Homo sapiens: one gene and its partners. The protein of the gene in region 2 interacts with the protein of the main gene of each other region in a biochemical or structural test. Each region holds a gene or a part of one and is shown on either strand. Other genes may lie near its edges.

What was found.
Region 1: the proteins of PPP1R9B (region 2) and ITGB8 form a complex in vitro, tested with the Homo sapiens proteins (one study listed by BioGRID).
Region 3: the proteins of PPP1R9B (region 2) and ADRA2C form a complex in vitro, tested with the Homo sapiens proteins (one study listed by BioGRID).
Region 4: the proteins of PPP1R9B (region 2) and ADRA2B form a complex in vitro, tested with the Homo sapiens proteins (one study listed by BioGRID).

What each region holds. Positions count from the first base shown.
Region 1 is NC_000007.14:20,333,285-20,341,373, reverse strand, and holds part of ITGB8 (integrin beta-8 precursor), read right to left. Parts: intron 1,102-8,089; exon of another isoform or gene 906-1,101; intron 1-905. UniProt on the Homo sapiens protein: Integrin alpha-V:beta-8 (ITGAV:ITGB8) is a receptor for fibronectin. It recognizes the sequence R-G-D in its ligands.
Region 2 is NC_000017.11:50,140,678-50,147,677, forward strand, and holds part of PPP1R9B (neurabin-2), read right to left. Parts: intron 4,569-7,000; coding exon 4,436-4,568; intron 3,042-4,435; coding exon 2,921-3,041; intron 697-2,920; coding exon 592-696; intron 1-591. UniProt on the Homo sapiens protein: Seems to act as a scaffold protein in multiple signaling pathways. Modulates excitatory synaptic transmission and dendritic spine morphology. Binds to actin filaments (F-actin) and shows cross-linking activity. Binds along the sides of the F-actin.
Region 3 is NC_000004.12:3,761,418-3,769,697, reverse strand, and holds ADRA2C (alpha-2C adrenergic receptor), read right to left. Parts: upstream 3,314-8,280; 5' UTR 3,092-3,313; coding exon 1,703-3,091; 3' UTR 1,172-1,702; downstream 1-1,171.
Region 4 is NC_000002.12:96,113,088-96,121,012, forward strand, and holds the start of ADRA2B (alpha-2B adrenergic receptor), read right to left. Parts: upstream 3,485-7,925; 5' UTR 3,063-3,484; coding exon 1,710-3,062; 3' UTR 1-1,709. UniProt on the Homo sapiens protein: Alpha-2 adrenergic receptors mediate the catecholamine-induced inhibition of adenylate cyclase through the action of G proteins.

The DNA of each region.
Region 1 (8,089 bases), on a different chromosome or scaffold from region 2:
AAAACTGAGGATGTCTGAAACTGTAACTCCCTTCTTGAATGTTTCTTTTTTTTCTCAGTGTTGCCACTGTCTAGATGAATTTTCTTGGAAATTGTGCCCCATCTGTCATTTCTAGAGCATTTTATTTTGCACTTTATGATCCACTTGTCTTCAATTCCCCATAAAAATCCAAACCAAATGCACAAAAACACAATGGAGCAATACCTTGGGAGGTATGATTTGTACTAAGAAAGAGACCAGCCAGTCATTTTGCTGCCAACAATGCAGTTCTGCTACAATAGTGTCTTTGTTTCCAACTAGAACAGCCAGTTCTACAGCAAGTCCTTGCCACCCCAAAACTTCTTTGCATCCTTTGTTCTATTGCAGTCAATGAATACCTTGCATGACTAAGCCTATCCAGCCTGGCCTCTTTGCACCTCTCCAGCAGGCAATTAGAAAAGACATTCCCTATTTGGTACTCCTTAATATAAATCCTGTCAATCCAGTCCTTGTAGAATTTTGAATTTTCCTTTTAATTATTTTCTTTGTTTGACCTCATAATATTCTAATGATCCTTTACAGCATAGTGGTAATCCCTCATTCCATAAGGATGAAGCTTTTCACCCAGCCCCCTTCCCTACCTAGTACCTGTAACAGTTACTAAGAAATAATCCTAAATATATGGTCCTTACTAAAATCAGGAAAAAAAAATGCCTTTACCTGGGAAGCTGTTTGTGGTTCAATTCCAAGGAAAGATCCCTGATACCACATGTACACATGAAACAGCAGTACTTTTAACTGTGGCTTCATTTACTATCGGCAGATCTTGAAATTTCAACCCGCTTTATCCTAAAAGGAAGTTGAGTCCAAAACCATGGAAAACACCAAAACATTCCTGGCCCAAATCCACCACACATCTCACATACCTAATATGACATATTTGGTACAGTTCTTCAGAGCTGGAATATTTCTAGTTTTTCATCCTCCTGTCTTCATCACCAGCCCTTCTCTCCACTTCCAAACTCGGTCTCTTCCATAGGCTTTGACTTGAACTAGCCCTTGACAGCTACTCTGCTTTCTTACCCTGTACTATCACGAGACTGTGAATTTTTTGGCAATCCTCTAGAATAAACAAACGATACCAATATTTATCTGGAATAGCAACAGATTCTGTCCTTAACAAATGTAACAGTATTATTTGATTACAACAAAGCAAAACATCAATAAAACACCAGGCAGAGATAGCGCACGTCTAAAACCATTATAGCAGTGATGGTTGGCTCATTGATGAGGTCAGCATGAAAGGCCACTTTATAAGACCCTATATGCTGTTTATAAAACAAACTTTTATATTTTATTTTATTTTAGACAAAGTCTCGCTTTTTCTCTCCCAGACTGGAGTGCAGTGGCACAATCTCGGCTCACTGCAACCTCCGCCTCCCGGGTTCAGGCGATTCTCCTGCCTCAGCCTCCCAAGTAGCTGGGATTACAGGTGTCTGCCACCATGCCCGGCTAATTTTTGTATTTTTAGTAGAGACAGGGTTTCACCATATTGGCCAGGCTGGTCTTGAACTCCTGACTTCAGGTGATCCACCCACCTTGGCCTCCCAAAGTGCTGAGATTACAGATGTGAGCCACCGCGCCTGGCCTAAAATGAACTTTTAGTACTTTGGATAATAGCACTCAAAATAGAAGCATCTTTAAAAATCATCTTAAAAGTATATATCTGATAAGAACACTTTAACAATGCAATTTTAAGTTAATAATCTTATTTTTGTTTCCTAAACTAATATTAGTTAAGGACTTTTTTCAATAACTGCAGGAAGATAATTTAAATATATCTGTTTAATATTAGTAGTTTCCTAGCAAGAATTGATCTTAGCACTTTTGTTAAAAGGTGGGTCTGTTTTAATTAAATTATAAAATCCCAATGGAAATCATTCTGACTTTCAATACACTTTTTTGGTGTGTAAATCAAATAATTTACTTACTGCGAAAGAGGAAATAAGGTCACATTAAGATTCACTTTAAGTCGAAAAATAGTCCTTTTACTCCATGAATATAGTATGGCACTGCTTTTTCTATATAGTCATTCACTTATAGATATTAAATATCAAATATATGCCAACTGAATAATTTGACCAAATTAGGTCATTCATGTCAGTAAAATGTTCTTTCCTAAGTTGTTTTTTTTTTTTTTTTTCGAGATGGAGTCTCGCTCTGTCGCCAGGCTGGAGAGCAATGGCACGATCTCGGCTCACTGCAACCTCCATCTCATGGGTTCAAATGATTCTCTTGCCCCAGCCTCCTGAGTAGCTGGGACTGTAGGTGTGTGCAACCACATCCAGCTAATTTTTGTATTTTTAGTAGAGACAGGGTTTCACCCTGTTCACCAGGCTGGTCTCGAACTCCTGACCTCGTGATCCACCCACCTCTGCCTCCAAAAGTGCTGGGATTACAGGTGTGAGCCACTGTGGCCAGCCTTCTAAGATATTTTTTAAAATAATAGAGGGAAATAAGTAAAACTAAATTAAGACTATGCATACATTTGACTCTCATTGTAACATGATTTGCAAGAGAGTAAAATTTTGTATAATCTGTACACATCTCAAAGATTACCAAAAGGGATTTAGTTATTAAAATATAAAAACACTTTGACATGAGGTAGTCAAGACTACCAGACTACCTTATGCAATGGTCTCTGGTGCTTTCTTTGTCTCCCCGGCTCAATAATATTTATTTGTTTATTATTTATTTATCTATTTTTGAGATGCAATCTTGCTCTGTTGCCCAGGCCTGGAGTGCTGTGGCATGATCTTGGCTCACTGCAACCTCCTGAGATCTAGCAATTCTTGTGCCTCAGCCTGTCAAGTAGCTGGGACTACAGGTGCGCACTGCCATGCCCCGCTAATTTTTGTATTTTTAGTAAAGACGGGCTGGTCTTTACTCCATGTTGGCCAGGCTGGTCTCGAACTCCTGACATCAAGTGTTCCTCCCACCTCAGCCTCCCAAAGTGATGGGATTACAGTTGTTAGCCACTGCAACCGGCCCCCAGTAATATTTAAACTAGTAGACAAGTCTGCCCCTAACTGTTTCAGGGCCAACAGCAAGAACACAAATAGCAGTGAGCATAACAGACTACATATTTAACAGCTACAAACCAGGCAAAGAAACCCATAGGTAAAATAAGTTCTATCTTCCTTCCTTGATAAATATATATGCATAATGACCTGGAAGGCTAGGTCTGAATTTGGAATATTCACCTCCAGATTTCTAGTTAGGAACTGGGCAGTGTGTGAAGCGTTGCCTCTCCAGCCATTATCTTCCCCTCTTCTCTCCCACCTCTAAATTTATTCTGCAGCACAGGTAGCCTGTTGTTTACCTGCATGGACACTTCAGCTTGCATGTCCAAGCTCTGTTTACCTCTCCTGCATCAGTGTCCTTGGCCATCTTCACCTAGGATTTGGCACAGGGGTGACTCAGTTTACCCCCAGAAGGCAGGCCATAAAAGTAGTCTGAGGCTGTTTAGGCTAAGAATTCTGGAGATGATCTAGAGGGGGTGACAGACTTTACTTGAGCAAGCCCCATGGACTCCCTGCCCATGGTTGAGGTCAATGGCCTGAGGACAGCTAGAGCTGAACCTTCCAAGGTTCAAGGTAGGGACTCCTCTCACCTTTGAAAAGCAATCTATATGTCTATAATTATGATTCAGAATGCTGACTCAAACCACACAGATCGGAATTCTGGGACCATTATTTATTAGTTAAGAGATCTGGAAGAAGTTATACAATGCCTCTTGAATTAGTTTGCTTACCTATACAATGGGAATAACAGTATATAACTAACAGGGTTGTAAGCATTAAAGGATATATTATATTTTCAAATAATGTGTCCAGGAGGGTGCCTGGCCTACAGTAAATAATACACAAAACTTAATCGTTGTTATTTTTTAACTCCAGAACTCAGTATAGTGCCTGTCATAAAGCTGTATGTGCTTTAAGAAAGTCTGAATGAATAGTCATTAAAGGAGTTAGAATAGCTTGGATTTTTTATTAATTTTTTAAGTATTTAGTTGAAAATGACTATAAATTCCAGTTTTTGTAATTTTTGAAGTATTTAGTTGAAAATGACTACAAATTCCAGTTTTTGTAATCTAATTACAATTTTGTAAAATTGTAAAATCAATTTTAAAGTTGATACCAAGGGTAAAGAATTAGGATTACTTTTTATATTTTATTATCAACAATAGAAATCATTGTCACAGAAAGTTTGAAAACAAGACAGACTTTGAAAAATAAGATTAAAGAGTACTAAGTCTCAGCTTTTAATCTTTGCTAATGATTTGTCCAGAAGGTCAAGAGACTGCTTTCTGGTATGGTCTGGGAAAACAGAAACAAGTGTCCTTTATGGTGTAACCCACTTTTAAAAGAAAATTTTATTTCTCTAAGTTCAAATTCTAGTGAGGCTTAGAAATGATTAGGGAGAATTTGCTTAGCTGCCCAATTTTAGATTGCTCACTATTATCCTCAAGTTATCTATGGGGTCATTTACTCCAGATACTTTGTGAAGACCTACTGTGTACCAAGCATTGGACACACAAAAATACAGGCAGCTTCTTCCCTCAAGGAGGTCACAGGTGGGTGTGTCCATAGCAAAGCTGGGAGGAAGTTGTATGAGGAGCCTGAAGACAATGGGGAGCTAGGGGAAAGTTCTGAGTAGAAAGGAACATGTGGACAAAGGTTTGAAATGATGAAGACTGATTAGGAAGTTCATATTATGAAGCATAATTCAAGCTTTCTCTACGATGTTCAAATCCCATCTCTCCTACTTACTAGATAGGTGACATTGGGCAAGTTACTTATCTCCTCTGCTCCTGTTTATTTGTTTCAAAAACAGGGACCTCTCTCACAGTGTGATTATGAAGACTGGACAAGAAAATGGAGTTTGGTTTTGAATGCGTTAGGGTCTTTGCCTTTAGGCGTGTAGTGGAGACATGGTTTACACAATTTGCTGCACCTTCTGGAGGTCAGGTTTAGAGATAAATATTCTGGAGGTGTCAATGTGGAAATGGTATTTAAGACACAAGACTGGGCCGGGTGTGGTGGCTCACGCCTGTAAGCCCAGCACTTTGGGAGGCCGAGGCGAGCAGATCACGAGGTCAGGAGATCAAGACGATCCTGGCTAACACAGTGAAACGCCCTCTCTACTAAAAATACAAAAAATTAGCCGGGCGTGGTGGCGGGTGCCTGTAGTCTCAGCTACTCAGTAGGCTGAGGCAGGAGAATGGTGTGAACCCAGGAGGCGAAGCTTGCAGTGGGCCGAGATCGCACCACTGCACTCCAGCCTGGGCGACAGAGCAAGACTCCGTCTCAAAAAAAAAAAAAAAAAAAAAAAGAAAACCAAGACTGGATCAGAGAAGTCCTTAGGAGTGGGTCCTGAGCCACTACTACATTTAGAGGTTAAGAAATGAGGAAGAATCAACATCAGAGATGGAGAAGGAGCTTAAACCAAGAGAGTGTGGGTCCAAGAAGCCAACAAAACTGTTTCCAAGGAGGGCAAGGTCAACAGTGTCAAGTCACCAACAGATGATACATCAAGCAGGATGGAGATTAAGAATTAGCCATCAGATCTGGCAATGTGGAGGTTACCCTGATCTTAAGAGAGTGGACTGCAGAGGTGATAAAGAAAGCCTGCTCACAATGGATTCAAAGAGAAGGTGAGGAGAAGAATCGGAGAGAGGAGTTACGGACAACTCTTTCAAGGACTTATAGCAAAAGGAGAGAAAAAATAGGAGATAAAAAGGTTTTGCCACATATATGGATATTGCTTTAAATGATACAGTAGATAGGAGAAAAACTAATCATGCAAGGGCAGGCAGATCCTTGAAACTGAAACTTTACAAGGTATACCTGCTGTGATTCCATTGGAATAAAACAATTAACATTTGTCACGGGAAGCAGATTTACTCATGTTGTTTTTCTCTGTTCATATACATGCGTATCAAAAAGCTATTACATATCCATACTTTCAAAATAAAAATATTTTTAATGGAACTATAATAGAACTATTGAAAAGTAAATGGTTGAAACTGTGTCTTTCCCATTCCTCGTGTCCTTCTCTTTTGCAATTGCTTCCCTTAAAAATTGTGAACATTCTTGTTGCCCTAAGTTTCAGTTTTTAAAAAAATTCATGCTTTAAGATTAGTTACAGTGTGTTCCTCCTCCAGTAGTATTTTTATTTACTGAAATATTTTAAAATAAAATGATATGAAAAATTTCTTTCAAAATATTTAGTTGGGAGAAGGGGGTGAATTGGGTACCAGCAGGAGCACAGATGAAAGAAGTTGGCTTTGAGTTGATGGTTAATGAAGCTGGGTGATGAGTATATAGTGGTCCCTTATACCATTCTCTCTAATTCTGTATGCATTTGAAAATTTCCATTATACCATGTTAAAAACTTTAAAAAATCATAGGGTTAATACCATGGTTAACCAAAAAGAATCCATTAAGTAGTGAGATTTCAGATAATTTGGTAACAAGAGAAGAAGTTATTTTGGGGCACAGGAATTTTCCAAAGCATATCAGCTACTTTGCTGTCAGTTTAGAGGGCAAACATGTATGATTTTTAATTGATCAGAAAGTGTCTCCATTGCTTCAAGATAGAATTAATTTGGGAGCTTATTATGCAAATAATTTAGAAGGCTGAATTTTTTGTTAATGATACCTTGGTTCTTTTAAATATCCGATCACTTTAGGTAAGCATAAATAATTCTGGGAACACTTATGCTATGCAACGCTTTGAGGGGAAGTAATGATATGGTCACAAAATAATGTTAATCTAGTTGATTGTTGTTGAAAATAATAAATAATTGATACTTGAATAAACAGAAGGTGAAATTTCATTGCAATACACAGAAGGTGAAATTTGATTGCAATAATAGTTACCGCTTTTTTAAAAGAAACTGTGATATCTGAAATTTGTTACACTTATATTGCTATATAAAAATTTAGGTAATGAAAGTTCTTAATCTTTTAAAATAAGTAAATGTGGAAACAATGTTGCTACATTAACTCTTCAAATATTAACCACTAGATATACTTTATGTTTTTCTGGTTATTTATTGACCATTTTACAGTGCTATTATTTCTCTAGCTGTGGGTAATCTTCACCAGAGACAGTTAAAAAACAAACTGCTATAATTTTTGCTACATCAGAAATCTTTGGATTTGATTAATAACATCCCCCACTGCTCACTATATATTTGTTATTAAAAGTCCACTATATGTTCGAGACCTATAAATTCTGCTTTAAAAATTAAACCCAAAGTTATGCTGGTCTTATGCAGCTTCTGGTCTCTTTTGTATGGCTTTATTGCCCTCAACATTCTCCTGGTGTAAACTACTGAGCAAGGAAACAAGATTTCCATTGTAACTGATACCTAAATTTCTATTCTGCTTTAAGCATCTAATTTGCACTGTAAAGACATATAATTTGAGACTTGTAGCTATATCACAAAAGTACAGCAGTTTATGCTGATCTCTAATTTTCTGAGTTATACTGGCTATAATTTACATTTTTTGCATGTTTTTAACTGCCATGCAAATCAGTATACATCAGAAACCTTTGTATATTGACAGAGACTGGGAAAAGGATGCCTTGTTCTGATTTCAGATAAGCATTCCCTTTTCAGGTCTGCAGGTGCAAGTAGGCCCATTCATAATATTTCCTTCAAATCAGTTTTAGACACTGGGTAGAAATGCAATGCTTTTTCACAAGAGCCTGACTAATGTTTATAAGCACAGTTAATGGTTTTTAAAAATGTACTTTAAATAGTAAATTTTAGAGGCAAGTAGGACTTTTTCCTTTGCCTGTACGTTGGGAACAAAATATACTGTGTTAACACAAATTTTGGTCATTTTACTAGTGTGTATGTGTGTTTACTAAATCTAGAAAAGCACTTTATTACTTATTGAAACAGGATGAAATTATGCTTAGCGGAAAATTTGCTGCAACAAATGCATGTTTCTTCCATTTAAGAGATAACTGATAATGAATGTTACTTTTTCCTTTGCCTTTTCACTATTTTGAAATCAACAAACAAGCCAAAAAA
Region 2 (7,000 bases):
TGGAACTTCCAGGCACCAGCCCCTCCTCCCGGTGGCCACCCACATCCTGTTTCTCTCCACCACCCTTTCCTGGGGGTAGTACCCCTCTTGCAGGGGGGCAGGGAGTGATCCCTGAATGTTAAGCCAAAGGTAGAGTGGACACAGGGAGCTTCTGATCCAGTCCCCTTGGTTACAGGCCTGGGGCGGAGTCTTCCCAGGATGACATAGGGCTGGTCGGGGTGGGGGGCATGAGGTCCCAATGAGGGGACCCCAATATGGTTAGCATTCACCCTGGACGTCCTGGTTCTTCAGTCAGTGAGTCAGGGACAGGTAGGGGGAAGGAGAAGAAGCCCTAGAGGACAGTTTGGAGGGCTGGTGGACAGTGGGCCAGGAAGGCTGAGTACTGGTGGCCAGCTGTTGCCAGGGAGCTGGGATGAGAAGGCAGGTGTGAGGCGAGGGACTCCAGGCACAGCAACTCCTGCAGCCAAGGAGTCAGCAGAACCTCTGTGAGCTGGGCCACCAGAACCTTAACTGGCTGTTAAGGCAGGTGAACGGAGTGCCTGGACGAGGACCTCCTGCCCGCTCCCACGCCCCACCCCTCTGGGCTCTCACCGCACTCGGCCCTTGGTGTTCCGGAGCACAGACGCCGCGAAGCTCTGGGTCACTCCCACCAGACTTGTTCCATCCACCTCCACCAGGAGATCATTCACCTGGATCCTAGCGGAGTGACATTGGTTAAGGGGTCACAGGGGAACCGAGGAGCGAGGGTAGAGGTAGCCTCCTCCCATCAGAAACTCCAGGCTCCCCAGCCTGAGTACATAGTGAGAACTCATCTCTACAAACAATAAAAAGAAAAATTAGCTGGGCATGGTGGCACGTGCCTGTAGTCCCAGTTACTTGGGAGGATGAAGTGGGAGGATCACTTGAGCCAGGGAGGTCAAGGCTGCAGTGAGCTGTGTTTGCGCCACTGCACTCCAGCCTGGGCAACAGAGTAAGACCCTGCCTCAAAAAAAAAAAAAAACAAAAAAAAACAAGAAAAGAAAACAACAACAAAAAACCTCACAGATACTTTGTCCTCACAGGGACCTGGTACTTTGTCTACCTGCGTAACATTCACAAGGCCAGAGGATTAAGTGTCAGCCAGGCCCACCTGTGTGGGCAGTGAGAGCCAGGCAAGCAAAGCAGACACAGGCGTCCAGGACCAGGAGACGCGGCAGGCACACTTCCTGTGACAATCACACTCTTGTCCCCTCCTTCATCATACTTGACTGAGCGGTGTGACATTCTCAGAGTTCATCTCTGCCATGCACACTGGCCAGGAGCCCCACAGCACACAAGTGACATGCCACCCTCTTACGTGTACATTTCTGCACAGAACTGAGTGCACAGATGTCCTCCCAAGTCCCCAAGACCGAATGGCACTCTCTCGAGTTCACACACTGTCCCACACACACCTGATACAGGTGCACCTGCCGACACACTCCAGTTGTGTCCCCTGAAGCCCGTGTTCTCCATACAAGGGGAGGTTCAGTCTGGCCTGCTGAGGGAGATGGAGGGTGGGGGGCCTCTCAGACACCTCCCTCCTCCACTCCACCTCCCTGGGAGCTCCAGGCCTTCTCTCAGGACTCCCACACGGAAATGGAGGAAATGGCCTATTGTCAACAGCTCACCCCAACACATGCCACTCCCAGGTGGGCATGAGTGAGTGGCCACGGCCACCATGCACACTCACTCCTTAGACAACCCACAGGCAACAATGGGAAAGGCTCTGGAAGTTCACATTGGGAGGGGAAGGGGTAAATGAAAGGGTATCCTGTTCCCGGCCCCTCTCCATGCCACCTGGGCCACAACAGGTAGAAGCCCCTTGACAGGGCAGCCCCATCTCTAGAAACAAGATCCCAAAGTCACCCAGATCCCAAAGGACACCTGCTCACCTCTGTCACATGGAGGGGGTCTGGGTTTGGAGGTACCACCACAAGAGATCCCCAATGTCACCTCTAACTTACAGCCACCCTGGGGGATGCCCTACAGCCCTTCCTACTGCCACTCCCCACACCCCTGGAATACACAGCTAACACAGGGGTCCCTGGCTGGCACACAGCTCCAGGATGCCCTCCCTGAACCTTCTGTCCCACAGAACTCACCCCTTGCAACCACAGATGCTCAATACAGGCACACACACTCACATGCGCAAAGACAGCCTGTCTCCAGAGCCACTGCCATCAATGGGTCTAGTCACAGCCTCCTGGCCCCTGCTCTCTATGCCCCAGCCACACCTGCCTGCTCATGGCGCCACTGCCTGGAACCTCTGCACTCACTCCCTCAGCACAGCTAACTCCTGCTCCAGCCTTAGCTCTCAGCTCCAGCACTGCTTCCTCCAGGAAGCCTTCCCTAATGCCCAGAGAGATTAAACCCTCCTGTTGTATGCCTTCACAGCAGTCTGCATTTCCCTCCATTTCACTACCTTTTGTGTGTCCATTTATTCAATGTCTACCTCACACCACACTGCACACTTCTCAAGTGCGCCAGGCCCTCACCATTGACTTCCCAGGGCCCAGCACCGGCCCAACACTGTCAGAGACTCAATGTCCAGCGAAAAAAAAGCTCAAATATACTCCATGCCTGTCTTCTCCCTACCAGGGCCCAAACTGTACTCCAGACCGGGATGCACAACACACGCCTATAGCCCCCATGGTCACCAGCCCCTCCTGGAGAACACACGCTCCTTCAGGGCATAGGGGCTGACAGTGCTCACTGTTGTATTTCTGGGGCCTGGAACAGCACCTGGCATGGCAGTGCTCCCCGAACATCTCAGCTGCACACACAGCACGGAAATCTCCCAGGGAAGGCCCGCCCCACCCCCTGCTCAGTGGCCCACCCCACCAAGGATGGCCGGTCGGAGAGGGAAAAAGGGTCAGGCGAGACTGGGGAGGATTGGTACCTGCCATCCCGATGGGCCGCACCACCCTCCGTCACGGTCTTGACGAAGATACCCAGCTTCTCCAGGCCCATGTCTGCCCCGGCGCCCATGCCGATGATGCTGATGCCCAGGCCCTCGGAGTCTGTGGAACAGAGAGTGGTGAGATGGCAGGGCTTGTAGGGGACAGACGAGAGACTCTCCACCCCGAATTCCAGGGCACAGCCCCCCCATCAGGAAGCAGTCCCCATTAGGGGATGTCCCACAACTGAAGAAGGGATATAGTTCTGTCCACCGTCTTTGCCAAGTCTACTAGGATGGCTCCTGAGCCGCTCCCTGCCCTTTGTCCCTTCCAAAGAACCAATGGGCAGAAGAGCGTGCCAAGGGTGGCACAGGCAGGTAAGACTGTTGCATATGCAGACCAGGGCGTGTGGCCAGGATGGGGGTAGCCAGGATGGGGGTAGCCAGGATGGGACTCAGCCCTAAGCCTTTGGTCTTCTCCCTCTCAGCCAGTCTCATCTGTACTCATAGCTTCAAGGACCAAAGACCTCCAGATTTTCTCTCCCCTGAGGTCCATTCCCCTATCCACACCTGCCCCTGCCTGACTCATGGCCCTCTGATGTCCCAACTAATGACCTTCCCCCACAAACACTCCCTCATGGGGGATGGTACCACCACCTGCCACCTGCCAGACCTGGGAGGCACCTGGATTCCTCCCTCCCACTCACAGCCTCCACCTGAGCCAAATGACCCCCAGATGCTATGGATTCTACCCCTGGAGATCTTTCCAGTCCACCCACACCCGCTCTGCCATCTTCCTGTCCACGCCACAGTGGCCTTTCTCCATCCACTTGTGACCCCCTCCCTACATCACAGCCTGGTGTGGTCTTTCTAGACCTTTCCTGTGCTTCGAAATGGCTCCCAATCCATCTTAGCAACAAGACCACGTGGTCTGCAAGGCCTCATTTGCATGCTCTTCTTGCCCTCCCTATGCAAATGCAGCCAAGCCCCTTTCCTGACTACTCCCCTAATTCCTCCTCACCAGAGTGCAACTCAAGCTTCACTTCCCTGGAGAATGCCCCCAAGCACAGTCTGGTTAGGTCACCTGTTAAACGCTTTTACAGTGGCCCCTCCTTACCTTCCCCAGCCCCTATTCCAGCGCCTAAGGGTGAGATTAGATGTGACTGTGCCTTCCATGTCTGCCTCCCCCATCCATCTCCCCAGGAGCCCACCACTGTGTCCCCAACACAGAGCCCAGGACCTAGCACACAGTACCCTACAGAGACCTGTTAACTGAATGTGCAAATGTGGTTCCATGACCGGGGTGGTGGGGGTGTGGCTTGGCCTGGGTTGGAGGCCCTGTTTGCTCTGGGTGCTGACAAGGGAGGAGCGGGGAAGGTCACCAAGGGCCTGAGTCAGAGGGAGAGGCCCAGCAAGTCTGTGGGAGCCCCTGAGGGCACAGGGCAGGAGCTGGTGCCAGAGATGAGACCCGGGTCAACCCCAGCTGTGCGCAAGTGACGTGGCCTCCTGGCCTCTCACCCTTCTCCAGCTCCACAGGGAACAGCTCCAACCTCTCCACACGCTTCTCCAGCTCGTACTCAGCAGAGGCTGCCATGGGATCCACATCCTCGTTGCGACGATCGTAATCCTCGTTGGAGTAAGTGCTGAACACCTGGGGAGGGAGGCAGCTGGTCAGAGAGGCCGGCAGGAGGACAAGTGCAGAACTGGCATGAGGAGGCCGAGGAGGCAGGCTGAGTTACCCACCCCATGCCTCCCCATGATAGCCCTGAGATGAGGCCTCACCCAGTCCCCTGAGACCCCAGCTCTGAGCAAAACAAAGGCCCTTATAGTTCTGGAGCCCAGGGTCAAGACAGAAAGGGACCCAGCCTTGGCAGACCCGCACTGCTATTCTCTCTGTAGCTCCAACCAGCGTGAGCATGGTCTGCCATAGGCACAGAAGGGGAATCCTGGAGAAACGTCCAACTCAGGAACCCAGACACCCAGATAGAGGGAAAGTGAGAGATAGGACCCAGAGAGCCAGACAGGCGAGAGGGGACACAAAGACAGACACAGAGAGGAAGGAACAGGCTGAGCAGAAGAGGGGAAGAGGAGGAGGGGAGAGAGGATGGAGAAGATGCTGGAGAATGCCAGATGGGGAGAGAGGGGGGAGCGGGTGTGAGACAGAAGAGGAGGAGGGGAGCAGGAGGGGTGGAAGGGGAGAGGTACCCAGGACTGGCTCTGACTTGCCGCTCAAGTGGATGTTGGAGCAGGGGAGGGAAGCAGGAAAGACCATCTCTATCCCCGTGGAGAAGAGGCAGGCCCTCCATCCCCAGGAGCCCCTCGGGTGGCAGAAGCAGGGGAAAAAGCTGGGCCTGGCCTTCCCTGCACACCCAGGCCGCTCTCCCTCCACAACTGCAGCTCTCTAAGTTACGCCCCCTGTCCATGTGCTAGGGGGCCCAGGAGACTGAGGAGGGGACAGCCTCTGACACTGCCCACAGCGAACCCAGGCGCCATGGGGCTCCGAGGCCACCCCTGCCTTGGCATCTCCTGTACCCCTCTGTTGTCTCTCTCCAATGTCTCTCAGCAAAAAGAGGAATTCCTCAGCTCTGACTCCCTCAGAAGGACAGAGAAGGTGGGGCTGGGCTCTGTGGGAATGTCTAATTCTGGGCCCAGGCAGGGGTGCCCCCAGTGGGAGGTTAATGAGCACCATTTGGGGTACCATGACATGCTCAAGCTTCATCGCCTGCAGTGACAGGTTGGCACCACTTGGAGCCAGGCGGGGGCGGGGAGGGATGGGGAACAGCTCTATCAGTTGGCTGAGTCTGAGCCCCGAGGAGTCAGACTAGGACCCCATCTCCCCCAAGGGCCCTTGTCAGGGCCCGTCTCCTCCAGGAGCAGACCTTGTGGGCACCCTGGTGGGCAGCAGCACTCTCGTGTCCCAGCCTTTGTCTGGGTTTGCTCCGTGTCGTCCCCACCCCCTACCAGAGAGGCTCACTGCCACAGTGGGAGAGGGAGGGGGTGCTCATAGGACTAGAAGGCTTAGGTGGGAGGGACCCCTCTGGTCACTTAGCTCAATGCCCTCAATTTCACAGCATCAGAGAAACTCTGGCTCCAGCCCTTAAAGCTCATCTGTCCATTGCACCCCTCGAACAAACAGGCTGCCTACCTTGCACATAGTCCAGGGCACCAGGCCCACTGCCCAAGGTCACATGGGTTAAACTGTGGCCAGGCAGAATGAGACTGCACCCAGCTGGGACAGGTGGGTGGGTCACCGGTGACTTGGTTTCCACTGCACACATGCCCCAGGCTCTGGGACAGGGCTGATGTGAGCCTGGACTCAGCAGTGGGATTTGGCCCACTTTGCACTGGAGTCCCCTGACTCTCACCCTCTGCTCTAGGAGACACGGTCCCTTCATCATTGAGTCTCTACAGTCTCCTGAGTCAACGAAACCCCTCCCTGACACACATGGACACACACGCCCGCTGTGACCTCCAAAACACACCTCACAGCCTGTCCTGGGCTGCACCCTGCCCTCTTCTCTCAGCCTATCAAATCCTGTTCCCTTTCTGGTCCTGCCGCCTGCAGGAATCCCAGGCCTGGGCTCAGAGGCCCCAGACCACCTCCTACCCCTCCTCGGGCTGCCCACCATGATATGCCGGTCTAGCAGAGGGCCCTAGGGGAGGTCCCACCTCCCTGAGGCCAAGCTGGAATTGGGTTCTCTGCCCTCAGCAGAGGCCTCCACCTCCAGAAGGGCAACAATTGGGTCATCCATGGGGACCGGGACCCTGGACTTGGCATCAAGGCAGGGGCAGGAAGAAGAAAAAGTGGGGCCCCTGTGCCAGGGTGGGGAGGAGGAAATCCCCAGTGAGGCTGAAAGCCAGCCACACTGGGCCCGCCACACACGCTGGCTCTCACACAGGGCGGGCCAGCTCCAAAGTCACCAGGGAGCCGGGAAGCACTGCTCCAAATCATGTGCTATTTTTTACTGAAAAATCAGGGTAAGGCGTCAAATATAGACAGTCAGAGGCCCAGACCAAACTCCAACTCTGAGGGAATCGGACTTCTCGCAAAATTAGTGGGGGTGGGGTGGGGGGATCCAAACT
Region 3 (8,280 bases), on a different chromosome or scaffold from region 2:
AGAACACAGGACCCAGGGCTGACCCCTCCCCAGGCAGACCCTGGCCCCCCATGCCAAAGAGAGAGGTGGGTATCCAGGATGGATCTGGGCTGGGCTCAGCAGGCAGGGTCTGGCAGGGGAGGGTACACATAGGGAAGCCCAGGGGGGCCTCCCAGGGATGGGAAGGGGGACGGGAATGGGGAATGGATGGTCACAAGCAGGAGGCCTGACACAGCCCCCACACGCCTACCGAGCTGTCTGTGCGTGTGTGTTGGGGGGACCCCTGCCCAGCTCCTGCCAGGCGCAGGTCCCGCTTTTGCCCCTCCCCTCCAGCCATCCTGGCAACTTCCAGGCCCTGTGACACGGCTGAGTCTGAGTGGTCCCTACACCATGAAGGCCCAGCACCAGGAAGCCCACCTTGGTATTCTGTCCCCCACTTTCCACTGCCCTTCCTCAAGCAGCAGTGTGAACAGTGTGGACACCTGCTGGGCCTGACGGTGGAGCAAGGGGGAAAGGCAGGGCTGCACTGGGAAGACCCTGGGGGCACCACAGGAAACAGGCCGGCCCCAGGCCCCTCTCCAGACATTGCTGGTTTGTTCCACTCCACTGCTCTGGGGCCTCAATGACTTTCAGTTTGTTTCGGAAATAAGAAAGTGCCTGTTGTTCAACCTGGCTCTGGCCAGGCCTCTGGCCTAAGAGTGATGGTGTGGGGGCTTGCCGGCCTCACGCCCACCCTCTCTCCACCCAAGAGCCACGCCCACAAAATGTTCAGAGCCAGGAGGACTAGCTCAAAGCTACTCTCAGTCTTGGACTGGAAGAGCCCCACCTCTTTCCACCGGAGGCCCTGAATATCAGAGTGGGGAAGGGCAGGGGGCAGGGATGGGAATGCAGGGAAGACAGTCCCCCAGAATCTAAACTTGGGGTCAACTTGGGGGTTCTAGGCTCCTTTCACCTCTTCGCTACTCTCAGCACAGGAATTTTGAGTACATATTTTCCATGTACATAAAGGGTTAGCTTGAGAAAAAGCAAGACCCCTCCTTCTCATGCAAGAAGGAAGTTGTAACCCGGAGGCCCAGGGTGCCCTCCGTCCAGCATTGTGGGGTGGGGGAGATGGGGGAGGGTGTCAGGCAGGGTGAGGGTCTGGAAGATACCCCCAGCCCCCAAGCTCAAGGACTGACTGCGGCACCCAACATTAGATTACAAAGGTTTATTTAGAAAATAGTTTGGTTGTTTTGGCTGTTGTTTTTGGCAAACATTTAAATACTTTCAGTAATCAAAGATTGTCGGTGCTTTCTCCTTGCCCCCTGGCAGCCACCCCCCGACTAGGTCCTGGAGAAGTCAGCCCTTGGTCAGACGGGGATGGGGAGTGGTAGTGTCTTTGGGGGGCTCCTTGCTTGCCCATTTAGGGGGCTACCTCTGCCACTGCTCTCTAAAACCCTGACCTCACAGCCACACCTCGGCAGGGCTCCCAGAGCTGGATCCAGGCAGGGAGCCCCAGAAGCAGCCCCTTGCTGAGGGGGGAAGGCAAAGGGGTCTCCCCCTCTCTCCTCCCCACTCCCTGGAGCCCGGCTATCTCTCTGCCAAGCTCCTGCCCTGCCGCACCCTCCCCTGCGCCCTGGAGGCCAATCCATCCCCGGGTCTCTGGGAAAGCTCCCCCGTCCGGGCCGCCCCTTCTGCCCAGCCCCGAGCGCGGAGCTGTCCAGGATTCCCAGACGGGTGCGAGTCACTGCCTGAAGCCCCTTCTCCTCCGTCGGAAGAGGATGTGCTTAAAGGATCGCCGGAAATCCTGGTTGAAGACCGTGTAGATGACCGGGTTGAGCGAGCTGTTGCAGTAGCCGATCCAGAAGAAGAACTTGAAGAGCGGGCCGGGCACCTGGCAGGCCTCGCGGCAGATGCCGTACAGGCTGTAGCTGAAGAAGAAGGGGAACCAGCAGAGCACGAACACGCCCATGACCACAGCCAGCACAAAGGTGAAGCGCTTCTCGCGCGCCTGGGCCACCTTGCGGCGGCACACGCTGCTGCGCGCCCGGCGCCGGCGCGACAGGAAGAACTCGACGGAGCGCGAGCTGGCGCGCGACAGGCGGCCACCGGGCCCCGGGGACCTGGAGGCGGTCAGCGCCCCCGACTCAGCCGCCCCCGGCCCCGCCCCCTGCCCGTCCGCACCGCCCGCGCCCCCCTCCGCGCCCGCTCGCCGCCGCCCGCCCCGCCGCAACGCGCCCCGGCGCCGCCGCCTCTCGGCCGCTGCGCTGCTCTCGTCCGGCTCCACGTCGGCGGGCGGGGGCGCGCAGTGCCCGTTCTCGCCTGCGCCTGCCGCCGCGCCCAGCCCGTTTTCGGTAGTCGGGGACGCACCGTCGGGGCCCACGGGGGCGCGCTTCTCGCTGAGCGTGCGCGTGCGCAGCTTGGCCACTCGGTAGATGCGCGCGTAGACCAGGCCCATGATGAGGCAGGGCGCGAAGAAGGAGCCGATGCAGGAGGACAGGATGTACCAGGTCTCGTCGTTGAGGCCGCACTGCGGGTAGGCGGCGCCGTCGGGCTGGCGGTAGAGCGAGACCAGCGGCGGGAAGGAGATGACGGCCGAGATGAGCCACACGGCCACGATGGTGGCCTTGACGCGGCGTGGTGTGCGCTTCAGGTTGTACTCGACGGCCTGCGTCACCGACCAGTAGCGGTCCAGGCTGATGGCACACAGATGCACGATCGACGAGGTGCAAAACAGCACATCGAGCGCCAGGTACACGCCGCACCACACCTGCCCGAAGTACCAGTAGGCCATGAGCTCGTTGGCCAACGAGAAGGGCATGACCAGCGTGGCCACCAGGATGTCGGCCGAGGCCAGCGACACCAGGAAGAGGTTCTGTGGCGCGCGCAGCGCCCGGCTGGTCAGCACGGCGATCACCACCAGCACGTTGCCCACCACGGTGAAGACGATGAGGAAGCCCACCACGGCAGCCAGCCCTGCCACCGCGCCCGCCGAGTACTGGCCGCGCGGCGGCCCCCAGGAAGCCCCCGAGGCATTGGCAACCCCGCCGCTGCCCCTCTCGCCCGCGCCGCTCGCATTGGGGCCCGCCGCTGCCGCCACCGCCAGCGCCGCCGCCAGCGCCGGGGACGCCATGGTCCTCCCGCGAGCTACGCCGTCCCTCCTGGAGCCGGGGCGCAGCCGCGGCAGCTCGGGCGCCCCCCAGCCGGGGTCGGCGCCCGCATCGCCGCCTGCTGCTCGGGCGCGCCCGCCGGGGACCGCGGCGCCCAGCAGCCGGCCCTCGGCCGTGGTGGCTCCGCGGGCGGCGCGCCGGAGAGCGTGGCTGCCGGGCTCCCCGCAGCTGCCGAGCGTGTAAGTGCAGAGCAGGAGGCGCCCGGAGCGAGCGGCGACGCGGCTGCGGGGGGAGGGGGGCAGGTCCCGGGGTCCTCGCGCGGCCCCGCCCTCGGCCCGGCTCACGGGGAGCGCCCCGGCGTCGAGCCCACGGCGACGCGGCGCCCGAGCGGGCGTGCCTGAGCGGCCCCGCGGTCCCGGAGCCCAGCCGGGGCGCAGGCGACAGGCGGCGGCGGCCCGGGCGCTCCGCCTCCCATCCGGCCGGCTAGGGCTCGGCGCGCCGGGGCGCCGGCCGCCGCTCCTCCGGGCCCCCGCGCCCGCGCGCTCCCTCCGTCTCCAACTTTACTTTCCCGGGCGGGGCGCCGGCGCCGCCGCGAGTCCTCCGGCTGCTCCCGGGCGCGGGCGCCCCCCGCGGTCCACGCTTGGCCGTGCGGCCGCCGCCTCGCTCGCCGGAGCTGCGCCGCCGCCGCCGCCGCCGCCCTGCGCTGGGCGCGAGTGCGGCCGCCTGCGATCGGCTTCCAACTTGGGTCGAGTTGCGCAGCGGGGCGGGCGCGCGGGGCGGGGCGGGCCGCGGGCCCTGGGGAGCTGGCCGGGAACCGGAGCCCGCGGCCGCCTGGTCGAACCTGCCCGCGCGGCGCCGGGGAGGAGTCCGGGGCGGCGGCGCGGGGCGCGCGCTCGGCGAGGGCGCCCCCTCCAGGGCCGCCTGCAGCCTGCGGGACGGGGCCGAGCGGCGGCCGGCCTGGGTGGTGAGTTCCAGAAGCTGCTCTTTCTAAGACTGGAGCCTCCTTCGCCTCCCCCGGCGCAGGCATGGGCGCAGGCGGGGGCGCGCACACGCGCGCGCGCAGCACGGGCGGCTCGGGGTCCATGGCCTGATGGCAGAGCAACCTCTCGCAGCCTGGGGGAGGACGCGACGCTACCTGCGTGCGCACAGGTCCTGCCGAGCTCAGGGTCCGGACCAGATCCTGGATCGGCGCTCCCCGTCAGAGCCACCTCCGCACCCACCCCGGCCTCAGTTCCCTCGGCCCACTTCCCAGCGCTGCTGGAGCATGAATCATAACTAACGGCGGTGTCTGTGGAAGCCCTGGGCAAGCTCCCAAGCTCTGCACCCATGTTAGCAGTGATTGAAGTTTAATCCTTAGGCTCTCAGGCCCTGCTTTTAAAGGATGGAGAGGTGTTCAAAGTCACCACCTCTGACAAACACCCAGAACGGAGCTGCCTGGATGATGGAGCTTTTTGCAAGGGTGGGCTCAGGGGAGAGCGGCCGTTGAGGTAGCCCCCGTGCACCCTCGCCCCCGTCCGCGCACCTCCATTCTGCAGATGTGCACTGCCACGTGCACTGCCACTCTGTGGCCCATGTTGGGTGCTGGCTTCTGCCTCCAGGCAGCCTGGGGTCTGTGGGAGAGGGACTTCCAGGGACGAGGTGATCCAGGAGGAGAGCTGGAGTTCTCAGGCCTGACGTTTCTCTGCTAGGACCGAAGGGACGACCCTTCTCCCAAACGTCCAGAAACGAACCCCAGCTGGCTGGCCTCTCCCTGCATGGGCCCGCAGGAGAGAGGGAGGGAAGGTCTGTCCATCCTGTGGCTAGAACCGGCGGGGAAGGGGCGCTTCTGAGTGCCCGGGAGGTCATCATGAAGAGCGGCTGGAGTGACTGCCCTACCCCCGGGATGCCTATCCATGCCCGTGGCCTGGGGCAGCTTCTCTCTGAGCTCCTGAAGGGCGCCAGCTTTAGCCTCAGAGCCTGTCGTGTTCTCTGCTGCTCAGCCCTACTGGGGAGCATGTCTGTCTCCGCAGAGACACTGCCAGGAGCTACGGCTTCGTTCTTCACCATGTTTGTCACCAGCAGGGCCTGCATTGGGGGTGTGGAGGCCGAGCCAGGGCCCGGCAGAAAGCAAATATTTCAGATGATGGGCCTGCCAAGCAGGGGCGCACGTTGGAGCCAAAGCCTTCTGTGCCAGTCCTGTGCTAGTCTAGGGCACATATGCCCTTCGGGGAGGCAACAGGCCATGGCTGTCCTGTGGGAGGTGTGTGACCTGGGGATGGTGGAGGGTCACCATCCTTACTAAAGGCCCTCCTGGTTCTGGTTGCCTAAAAGGTGCCACCTGTCCAGGGCACCTGGAGGTGCATTTTTCAGGGAAGCCCACACACACCTGCTTCCTTCATGGTCGGCCCGCTGGAGCCCTTGTCTCTATTGAGCCCTCTGCGATGGCAGAGAGTGAGGGGGGCCTGGCCTCAGTTGAGGTGCTCACCATCTGTGGGTGGATGGGGCCACCCACTGAGGTGAATGCGCTGACAACCATCAGTGCCCTGGGGCTCCTCCCCCAGCCTGGGAGCGGGGTTGTCAAGGAAGCCTTCCTGGAGGAGGTGACCAAACTGTGCTTAGAGAGTGAGGAGGTGTTATGAGGAAGGGGGAGGCCTCTGTAGGCTGTCCTTCTTCCAGTGGGAGTGGGCTTTGTACTGGGGGCGTGGGGAGACAGGAGGACTAGGAAAGAGCAGTGGCAGGGGCCAGATGCAGGCTTTGGAGAAGGTCTCTCTCCCTCGGCATCAGCGTGCCTCCCACCCCCATCCTGAAGGGCTCTCTTTTTGAGAAGTGCTTTGGGGGATGCGCAGGGGCATGGGGATCTATCTAGGATCCTGGCTCCTATGTTCCCAAGAGATGGCAGCCCAGGCACGGGAATTTGGAGGGAAAAGGACACGGAGCACCTGGGGCCCTGAGCCAGATGAGCCTCCCACTGCCCAGGAGGGCTGAAGGCAGGGGCCACTCACAGGCCAGGCTGAGGGCATCTGGAGTGCCTGGCCAGTGAGCGGCCCAGGCCCTTGGGGATGGCAGCCAACAGGCTGACATGCTGCTGGCAACACCTCCTGGCATGACCAGGGAGGGGTCAGAAGGGTCCACTCCAGGGCCTGGATGGAGCCAAGGGCAAAAAGCTGGGGCCTGGAGTCATTAGGAGGAGCGAAGCCCTGGGCCATGCATAGGGGTTGCATTGCACGCAGGCCTGCCTGTGGTGGGAGGGCCCGGGACCGCAGCTGTTTGCAAGGAAGCTGGAGAGGACTCTTCCCCCAGACCTTGAAATTAGGCTTGAGGAACTGCTCCGGATTGTCCGTAACAAGCAGAACAGCACGTACCCAGCAAGACTTCCTGTCCTGACGAGGCACGACGCGAGCTGGCACGACCAGGAGGGGCGAGGAAGGAGGGTGCTGGGGGAGTCAGGCTGCACTGGCGGGGGTTGTGGGGGCTGTCTGTGTGTACGTGTGCAGGGGAGTACATGGCAGAAGTGGGCATATTTCAGAGGGGAAACCTACAGGTGTTTCCTAGAACTGAGAACCTAGAAGTGGCACGTCCTGGAGCTGCAGAGGCGAACCTGCCTGTATCTCACCCATGATGCGTGGGGCCTAGGAGGACAGGGTTGGTCCAGCAGGGCCATACAGCCATGGGACATTGGGCCCTGGCTGCTGTGCCGGAGAGAGCTGGGTGCCTGCCTGGGATGCCGCGCTCTAGGCTTCGTGAGCAGCCTCAGCTCGGGTGGAGGGGAGTTTGGCTCCTTGAGCCCCCTCCCTGCACATGCAGGCATGCATGCACATACGCAGATGTACAGTGTCCACACACATATATGTATCCACACACATCCTTGTGCACACATAGATCCATGCACACACATGAATATACATATCATGAATACACGTGTGTTCATGCAAGCATGAACACCCATACATACACATATCCACACATGCATGCAAGCATGCAACCTATTCATGCACACTTGCATGCCTTCACACACACATGCATGCACACATCCACACACACACTGTCTACATATACCATGTGGATTTACAGTGCATCCATGCCTACAGAATATACACACATGTATGCACACATACATGTTCCCACACATGCACACATGCCTGCGTGTGCATACACATGCCCGTGTACTCTTCACATGCAGGTGCATATATACATATGCACTATCATACACACGTGCTTTTTGCACACGTATGTCTACACATGCATATGTATCACACTGGCATATGTAGAAATGATGCACCCATGCTGTGCACACACCTGTGCATACTGCGGGCACGCACAGCCTTCCCTGTGCAGATAACACGAATCCATGCACATTGCACACACGTGTGTATGCCTGTGCTGCACACATCTGTCCCTATGCATGACACCAGTCATGCATGTGCACACATGGCTTCGCATATATGGATGTGTACACACATATGCGGCACCTGTGGCCTTGCCCACCCTCCTAGGCTGAGGAGAAGATGTATTTCTGGGTTGCTGCTGCAGCCAGCTCTTCCGGGGCTGCGGCTGGGTTCTGCCTCGCCTGCCTGGTCTGCACAGCTCCACCTGGCTCCTGCGGTCAGCCCTCCTCTCCACGCTGTGAGCTGTGAGGACATTTCTCATTAACTCTTGTGGACCCTGGGCCTGACCATGTGCTGTCCGCAGGCCTGGATGCCCTCTGCCTCATCTTTCCTGGGGCTCGCTTCCTTCAAGACTTGTCCCATGATGTTCCTCCTTCAGGAAGCCTCCCGTGACCTCCCGGGCTGGATCTGGGCCACTTTTGCCGGCCTCCTGCATGCCCCATGGGGCATGGCCATCATCAGTAACCATACATCTCAGCTGTGTCCCATCCCCACTGCCTGGTCCAGGGCTGGGCTCTCAGCTCACAGAAAGAGCTGAATGAAGGCCTGGTGGCAGGATGGGTGCCGTGAAGGGCAGATGGGCTTGTGGGCCTGGCTCTAGCCTCCTTAGCCGCACTGATGCTTGCTGGGTGCTGAGTGCAGGGGGTGCCTTCACCTGGTGGCTGCTTGTGCCAGGCCCCAGTGCCCCTGGCCAACAGGCCCTTTTCTCAGTTCCATGGAGTTTGGGGTCATCAGATGTGGCTTTAGGCTCCTGCTCATTCCCTTACTTATTGTCTGGCAGTGGGGGAGCCTTCTGGCTTCCAGGGCCTCAGTTTCCCCTGTCTGTAAAATGGGAGCATTGGACCAGA
Region 4 (7,925 bases), on a different chromosome or scaffold from region 2:
TGAGGACCAAGCTGGGAAGCCTCCCACACCCCAGGAAGGACTCTTTTTGGTCCCCTCCATTCTCTCTACACCCAGAAAACTCCCTCGGTGCCCTTCCAAATCTAGCAGGTCCATCTGGCCCATTCCCCCGACACCTGCCAAGCTAAGATGCCTACTGGCCCAATGTTGAAGCCAGGCCCTCTCCAAGGGAAGGCCGATAAACCTCCTTTCCACACTTCCAACTGTTCTGGGTGCCAGGTTTTGGGGTGGGACTGAGAACCAGGAAGCAGGGGTCCTCAATGCACAGCCCCATCAGCATTGCGGGGAGCAGCGTGGCTGGGTCCGAGGCAGTCCACAAGCACCCACCTGGGGGGATCAGTTGTGGTTCACAAGGACTCATTTGGGGCTTGGAGACCTGGCCGGGCACTCCAGTGGGAGGCTCCCCTAGGGGCGCACCAGGCTCTGATGCCAGTACCCCACCTGGGGGCGCTGCCACCTGTCACAGGCTCTCATCTTAGACTGTTGCCGAGGTGTGGATATTTTGAGCTGTCTTGGGGAGACAATTTGCCTCCTTGATGACAAAAGACTTATCCCCCACTGGGGAGACCCAAGCCACTAAAAACCCTCTTGGTGTTGCCGGTGAAATGTCGAAACGTTGTCATGTAGCGTAATAACTCAGACCTTTGCAGCCAGAAGAACACATTCTCAAAGAGATCCTTTAACTTGAAATAGTGATTCTGTCTGCCACTCCCGGCTTCCAGTTCGGGGTAGGAATTCACACACCCCAGGGACAGAACAAAAGTCTACAGGAAGACAGGTGGTGGTAAACACAGAGGAAAGGGATTTTTATATCACCATATAATCACATTTTTGGTTCTCTAGTGTGTTCCCCCACAGAGCTCAAAGCTTTCTGCAAAGCCTTTCATCTCCCTGCAGCAAGTAGGCAGTGAGCTATTGTCGCCCCGATTTTTGCAGGGGGTGAATGCCAGTGATCGGGGATCTCCCGTCGAGGCAGAGACCAGGCCTCCAAGACCGCCCCAGCGAGGCATCCACGTGGCCACCCACCTACCGGAGGGGTGCTGGGTAAGGAAGCCGATCCATTGTTCTGGCTTTCAAAGGAACCACAGATCCGAAAACAGGCAAAGGGGGAAAGGAGGGCCCAGAGACGATGCCACCCCATAAGCCCCCATCCCAGCGCCTGCCAGGGACCGCGAGTGCCTAGCGTGGGTGATCAGTCTTCGTTTCTTCCTCCCCCTCAGCAGCAGGCCCCACTGGGAAAAGTGGAAGGCTGGCTCCGTGCTCTTTGTGGGTGGGGGGGAGATGAAAAAGAAACGAAAACACCACAAGCAAGTGACCTGCCAGGAACACAAGGTCCTCAAGAAAGGGAAGCCCAGACATTGGTCTGGAGAGCATGGGGCTCTGGGAAGAAAGTGCTCTCTCTTCTCCTGGTCTTGGCTATGTTCCAGAGGATTTGAACCACCTCCATCGGCCTGTGCTCAGGGAGAGGGTGGAGAAGGGGTCCCCCACAGCTAAGCCGGCAAGGGGAAGCTTCACTGGGACCCTTGCTAGCAGCCCCCCTGCCCACCCCTCCCAAGGGGTTCCTAAGATGAGGCCTACAGGATCTGGGCAGGGAGCAGAAAGCCCAGGGGAGGCAGCCACACACAGCAGGGCAAGAAGCAGGGTGACCCCGGCGCCACCGCACCAACCCCACAGGGGCAGCGCAGGCGGGCTCACCAGGCCGTCTGGGTCCACGGGCGGCACAGGATCCTCCGGAAGGCACGGCGGAAGTCCTGGTTGAAGATGGTGTAGATAACAGGGTTCAGTGAGCTGTTGCAGTAGCCGATCCAGAAGAAGAACTGGAAGAGGCCATGGGGCACCTTGCAGTGCTTCGGGCAGATGGCTCCCAGGCTGTAGCTGAAGAAGAAGGGGAACCAGCAGAGCACAAAAACGCCAATGACCACAGCCAGCACGAAGGTGAAGCGCTTCTCCCGGGTCAGCTGCGCCCGTCGACGCCACCACTGCCCACCTATAGCACCCACGCCCCTGCCCAGGAGCACCTGGCCACGTAGGGTGGCCAGCACCCGGGAGCCCTGTGGCTGCTGCAGCGGGGGGCTGCAAGCTGAGGCCGGAGACACTGGCACTGCCTGGGGTTCACACTCTTCCTCCTCCTCCTCCTCCTCTTCCTCCTCTTCAGCTTCATCCTCTGGAGATGCCCCACAAACACCCTCCTTCTGGCCCTGGCCTGAGTTGGGAAGGGCAGCCCAACTGGGTGGCAAGGCCCGGGTCCCAGTATCTTCAGGGGTCTCCCCCTCCTCCTTCTCCCCAGTGGACTTCGAGTGTCCGTTGACCTCTCTGGCAGAAGCCACAGAGGCCAGGGCTGGCAGTTTGGCTGAGGCCAAAGCCCCACCATGGTCGGGTCGGGGCTGCTTGGACTCACCCTGCCCAGGCCCCCCCTTGGCCCTGGGACCTCTGCGGTTGCTGCGTTTGGCGATCAGGTAGATGCGCAGGTAGACAAGGATCATGATGAGGCAAGGAGCAAAGAAAGATCCGATGCTGGAGGCCAGGATGTACCAGGCCTCCTGGTTGAGCTTGCACTGGGGGCGCCCGCGCGGCTGGGGGCCCTGGTCGCCCTTGTAGATGAGGGGCGGCAGCGAGATGACGGCGGCGATGAGCCACACAGTGAGGATGATGCACTTGATGCGGCGCGGGGTGCGCTTGGAGTTGTACTCCAGCGCGCGGCTCACGGCCCAGTAGCGGTCCAGGCTGATGGCGCACAGGTGCACGATGGACGAGGTGCAGAAGAGCACGTCGAGCGCCAGGTACACCTCGCACCACGTGCGCCGGAAGTACCAGTAGCCCAGCAGCTCGTTGGCCAGCGAGAAAGGGATGATGAGCGTGGCCACCAGGATGTCGGCGGCGGCCAGCGACACCAGGAACAGGTTCTGAGGGGCGCGCAGCGAGCGGCTGGTCAACACAGCCAGGATGACCAGAGCGTTGCCGAAGATGGTAAAGAGAATGAGGAAGGTGATGGCCGCCGCTATGGCCGCTGTGGCCTGCACGGAGTAGGGGTCCTGGTGGTCCATGACGGGGCGGGAGGTGGGCAGAGGGAGCGCTGCCCGCCCAGTGCGCACCGTGGACGACAGCGCTGCCCGGCTCGGCTAGACAAGAGCGTCGCCCCTCGGGCGGCGCCGAGGGCGCTGGAGCCCCATGGCCTGGACGAGCGGGGCCTAGGAGGTCGGGAACACCCAGGACCAGCAGCCGCCCTCCTACATCCTCCTCCACCGGTGCCCGGGGTCCCTGCCGTCCGCCCCAGAGAAGTTTCCCAAGTTGTCCCGCCGCCGTCCCCGTCCCGCCCGGGACCGGAGAAAGTCGCGCCCTCCCGCCACGCGGATGCCGTACGCTCTGGGGGCGCGGGCCGGGCTGGGCCGGTTCTTAAAGGAGGCGCGGAGGACCTTGCGCCCGCTCAGCTCGCAGGCTTTCGCCCCAGCCGCGCCTGCAGGGGAGTGGGGAGCGGGGAGAGCGGCTGGAGGAAGGCGGAGACTGGAGGCGGGCGCGGGAGCGGGCGGGAGGCGGGGCGGTGGGCGGACCGAGGTGGGCTGAAGGTGCGCTTCGCGGGAGGCGTGAGCCCGGGACTTCCCGCGCCCGGACCCCGCCCAGCGCCTCTACCTGCCTTCCTCCCGGCGGCCGCGCCTCGGGAGAGCGGAGGGGCCCGGCGGCCGGGGTCTCCGGCCCCCAGGCAGGACGCGCGCAGCTGTGGAGGGGTCGGTGGGTGCCGGGAGCCGGGACGCGGAGCTAGCGCGCGGGCCGGCACCGGGACGGGACACTTCTCCCGGGGGAACCGGGCTGGGCCCGGCGCCGGTGCGCCCTGCTCTGCCTTCCGCCGCTCGGGAGCCCGCAGGGAGGGCAGGGCGGGCGTGGGGCTGGGGCGCCGGGTCGCAATACACCACAACCCCGCCCGGCTCGGCCGTGGAGACGCCCTGCGGAGAGGTGGGGGAGCGGGGAGCGGGGAGCCGGTCCCGACCCTTTCCCAGGCGCTGCCCCTCGCGGACCAGCTCCGTCGGGCCAGCGCCGCGCGAGGAGGGCGCGTCCCGGCCTGCGAGCGCCCCCTGCTGCCGCCCGCGGGCCCAGCCCGTCAGCGGCAGCCCGGGTCCCGGAGCCAGCGCTCGCAGCCTGGGTCTTAGGACTTCGGCTTCTTGTGTCTCCGCAGCTGCCTCAGTTTCCTCCATTAAGGGCAAAGGAGGTAACAGGGAAACTGGCTTGGACTCGAATCACAGCATCAACTGCGATTCAGCCAAGGGTTTGTACGGGGCACAGGGCGAGCTGCCGCCCCTTGACTAATGCGAAGGGGAGGTCCCTTCCTTGCCGTGGGGGAGTAAAGGGTGGGGACTTTGTCACACAGCTCCGAGAAAAAGCAGGTCTCAGGGGCAGCCGTGAAGAGAGGAGCGTCCCTCCGCTTCTGTAGTGACCCCGGGGGAAGGGGTTGACCCTCCCTCCCTGCTGCGGTCCTGCCCCACATACACACTGAAGCCCTTCTGGGGGTGACAGTGGAAAGAGGGTTGGGGTAAAAAGAAACTTCAGACTAAGGCCCCCCACTCGCCTTCAAAGCGCTATGAGCAACTGTTCTCCCTCAGGGCCCCAACTCACTCTCCCTGCCACACCGCCACCAGCACCAGCCTGGGCAGCCCTGAGGGCATGTTTCCCCGGTTCTGGAGCCCCTAATGTCATAAGCCCCGCCTCGAGCCAGGCCTCTTATTCACAGCCCACGACTCTGCAAGGCATCCTCTGTATAAATAAGCACCAATCCACCTCTGACAGTGGGGCTCCCCCAGGCCCCGTCCAACCTGCTGGACCTCCTCTCCTCCCTGCTCCCTCCATGGGAGCAGAGCACGTGGCCTCTCAGTGCCCACGGACAATGTCTAGCGCCTCCCCAGGCTCAGGTGGGAGGTGCCCCGTCTCAGGTACCCAGACCAGCACCCCCAGCCACGGGGGTGTGTTGGGAGTAGGTGCCTCCTTGATCCCCCCATCCCTGTCATTCTGCCAGACTCCCCAGCTTCTGGTGAGGTGCAAGTGCCCACAGCCCATGGGGTGGATGCTGCCAGGGCTGGGTTCGGACAGGGCAATCAGCCTCCTTCCCACCCCCAACCCTAGGCTTCAGCTCAAAACCGACCACTCTGCTAGACACAGTTTCCTGGATGTGTCTTTCCCACCCTCTGGGCTGGGCAGGGCCTGGGCGCCGCCTGGGCATACATAACCAGTGATGGAGAGATGCCAGTAGCTCTTTCCCTGAGGAAGGACAGAGGGTGGCCATGAGAGCCTGGGAGCAGCTACTTAGGCAGGTGCCTGCCTATCCAGGGGCTCCCAAGGCCTTCACAGTCTGGGCCTGCTAGAGGCCCACATGGGCATCGGGAGGAACCGCCTTTCCACTGTCTCCAACCACACTTGGGCTGGGGGCCAGTGAGCAGCTCCCCAGACTCTGCAGCCAGCATCAGCCTTTGTCTTCTGACCCATCTTCCTTCAAGGGATGCTGCAGGAGCTGAGACTGGGTTGCCCGTGTGCCCTCCCCACCCTGCAAGTCCCCACTGAGGACGCTTACCTGGGCCTTCCTAGAAGTGACAACTTTGGGTCTACTGAGTGCCAAGCCTTGCTAGGCATCTTTCATTGGGCCAGCTAGGCACTAGGCCAGGTGGGGACAGCCAGGGACAGAGTCTACAGCTGGCAGACCTGGGAGATGTGTGCCCTCCGGGCAGCAGGAGCTGCCTTGGCATCCATACCGCTGCCCCAGGCTGTCACCGTCTACTGCAGCTGTCTCCTCCTGGCTCCACCCCAGGATGGACAAGTGCAGCGTGGGTGCGCCAGCTCTCCACGGCCACGCAGGCCATAACATAACTCAGCTCCTGCTCCTCTCGGCGGCTCACCATCTCCCCCCGCACACACACACCTTCAGGCCTTGCCTGCTCCAACCAGCCCCATGAGGCTGCCAGGTGCAGGAATTGGAGCCTACTAGCATAGCAAGGCTTCCTTCAGCTCTTCCCAAACTAGACCTGACCTTCCACTGTCATCCTGTTCCACAGGAACGGGCATAGTTCAGTCCCAGACCAGCAACAGCCAGCAGCAGGAGCAGCCGGAGCTTTCCCAGACACATAGCAGGGGAGTGGGCAGCAGGGCACAACCTGGATCCCAGCCCTCCATCCCTGCCCCGCCAGGCCAGTGTTGGATTCTGAATGTGCCCTGGGTCTCCACTCTCTAGACCTTCCCTGGGGCTGTTTGCTCTGATAGAGATGCCCTATCACCCTTCCTTCTGTGTTTGGTGGGCTCCTACTCACATTTCAAGGCCCACTCACCAGTCACCAGGCTCTCAGGCAGAGGGAGGACCTCCATTCTCCAGGTTCCTCGACGCCAGGCGGCACCACTTTCACACTCAGCACACTGTACTAAGATGCTCTCTGATGGGTTTGTTGCATCACCTCTGCCCATCAGAGTGGACATCCCTTCTCTGTCCCCAGTACCTGGCACAAGGTCATTGGCCGTGAGGGACAGTGGCAGCAGGCAACAGTGCACTCATACACATGAGCATTCTAAGACAGATAGCCCAAATGAGGGTGCCCTGGAGGGATGTCCTTGGGAAGAGGGGCCATGGGGAAAGGACCTAGCCATGGAAGCGATCCACCTTTTCCAAAGAAGGGCAAGACTGTTGTCCCATTGCTGGCTGTGAGACCTTAGTTGGAAGCCATGGAGACACTTCTCCAGGCCTGAGAGGTGAGATGGTGCCACCAGATCTCCTGGGCTGGGGCTCCAGCAGCTCACAACGGTGCCTTCCCTCCCCTAAGGGCCCACTGGGACAGACCCCCATCAGGCCACACACCCCACCTTTCTCCAGATGTACCCCGCCCCCCACCAGCCTTTCAGTCCCTGGGACTCTTAACCCCAGACCATCCTGTATGCCCCAACCTCCCCACTTCCCAGATCCTTGGGTCGTGTCCTCTATAATAGAAGTCAGTCGTCCTCTCTGCATAAAGATCTTGACAAAACCCCAGCTCTGGTCAAACCTAAATCATCCACCCACTGCCTGCCTTTGACCAAGCAGCTGCTCTTTCCGGAGCAAAACACTCTCTGCATCGACTGGCCTCACTCTAAATTCATGACCACAAATCTCCAAACTTCCCTAGTATGCTCACTTTCCCACTTGTTAAAATCGGCATCCCTCCCTCCCTCTCCAACCTCCCAGCCACTCCTCCGCCCCACCATGCTGTGACTCTGCCTGGTACTTAGGGGGAAACGGAAGTCCAGGCAGGAACTCACCCCCGCCGCCCACCTGCATCTGGCCTCAAACTCTCTCTGCTGATTGAAGGGCAAGTCCTCAACCTATGCCCTAGAGCCCAACCCCTCTCATCTCACCCCAGGGTTCCCCCGCTTCAGTTATCCCCCTCTTATGGTCACTGCCCCTACTCTACAAAGCCAGCCCCACCCCTTAGAACTGCCCCCCAAGCCCCATCACCTTTCTGCTGCCTCCCATAGCCACCTTCCCCCCGTGTCTGTATCCAGGCACTGTGGCTGACCCCTCACATTCTCTCCTTAACCCCCGGCAGGTCATCTTCAGACCCTCCACCGAGGGTCTTCTGTGGGTCATGCCCTACTCCACATCACCAAGCACCAGGCTTATTCTGCCCTCTTTCTCAGCAGCACTTGGCACAGCAGCCCTTCCCCTGGAACACTCACAGGGTCTGTGACCGCCTTGAAAGCCACTCCTCTGCAGCCCTTTCTTCTCCCAAACTCTTAAGTCAGAGGTTCTTGCTAAGAGTGATTCTCCTCCTCTAAAGGACGTTCGGCAATGTCTGGAATACAGGGAGGGGGCCGCTATTGGCATCTGTGGGTAGAAGCCAAAGATGCTGCCAAATGTCCTGCAAGGTTCAGGGCCGTCCCCACAATAAAGAATTACCAGGTACAAA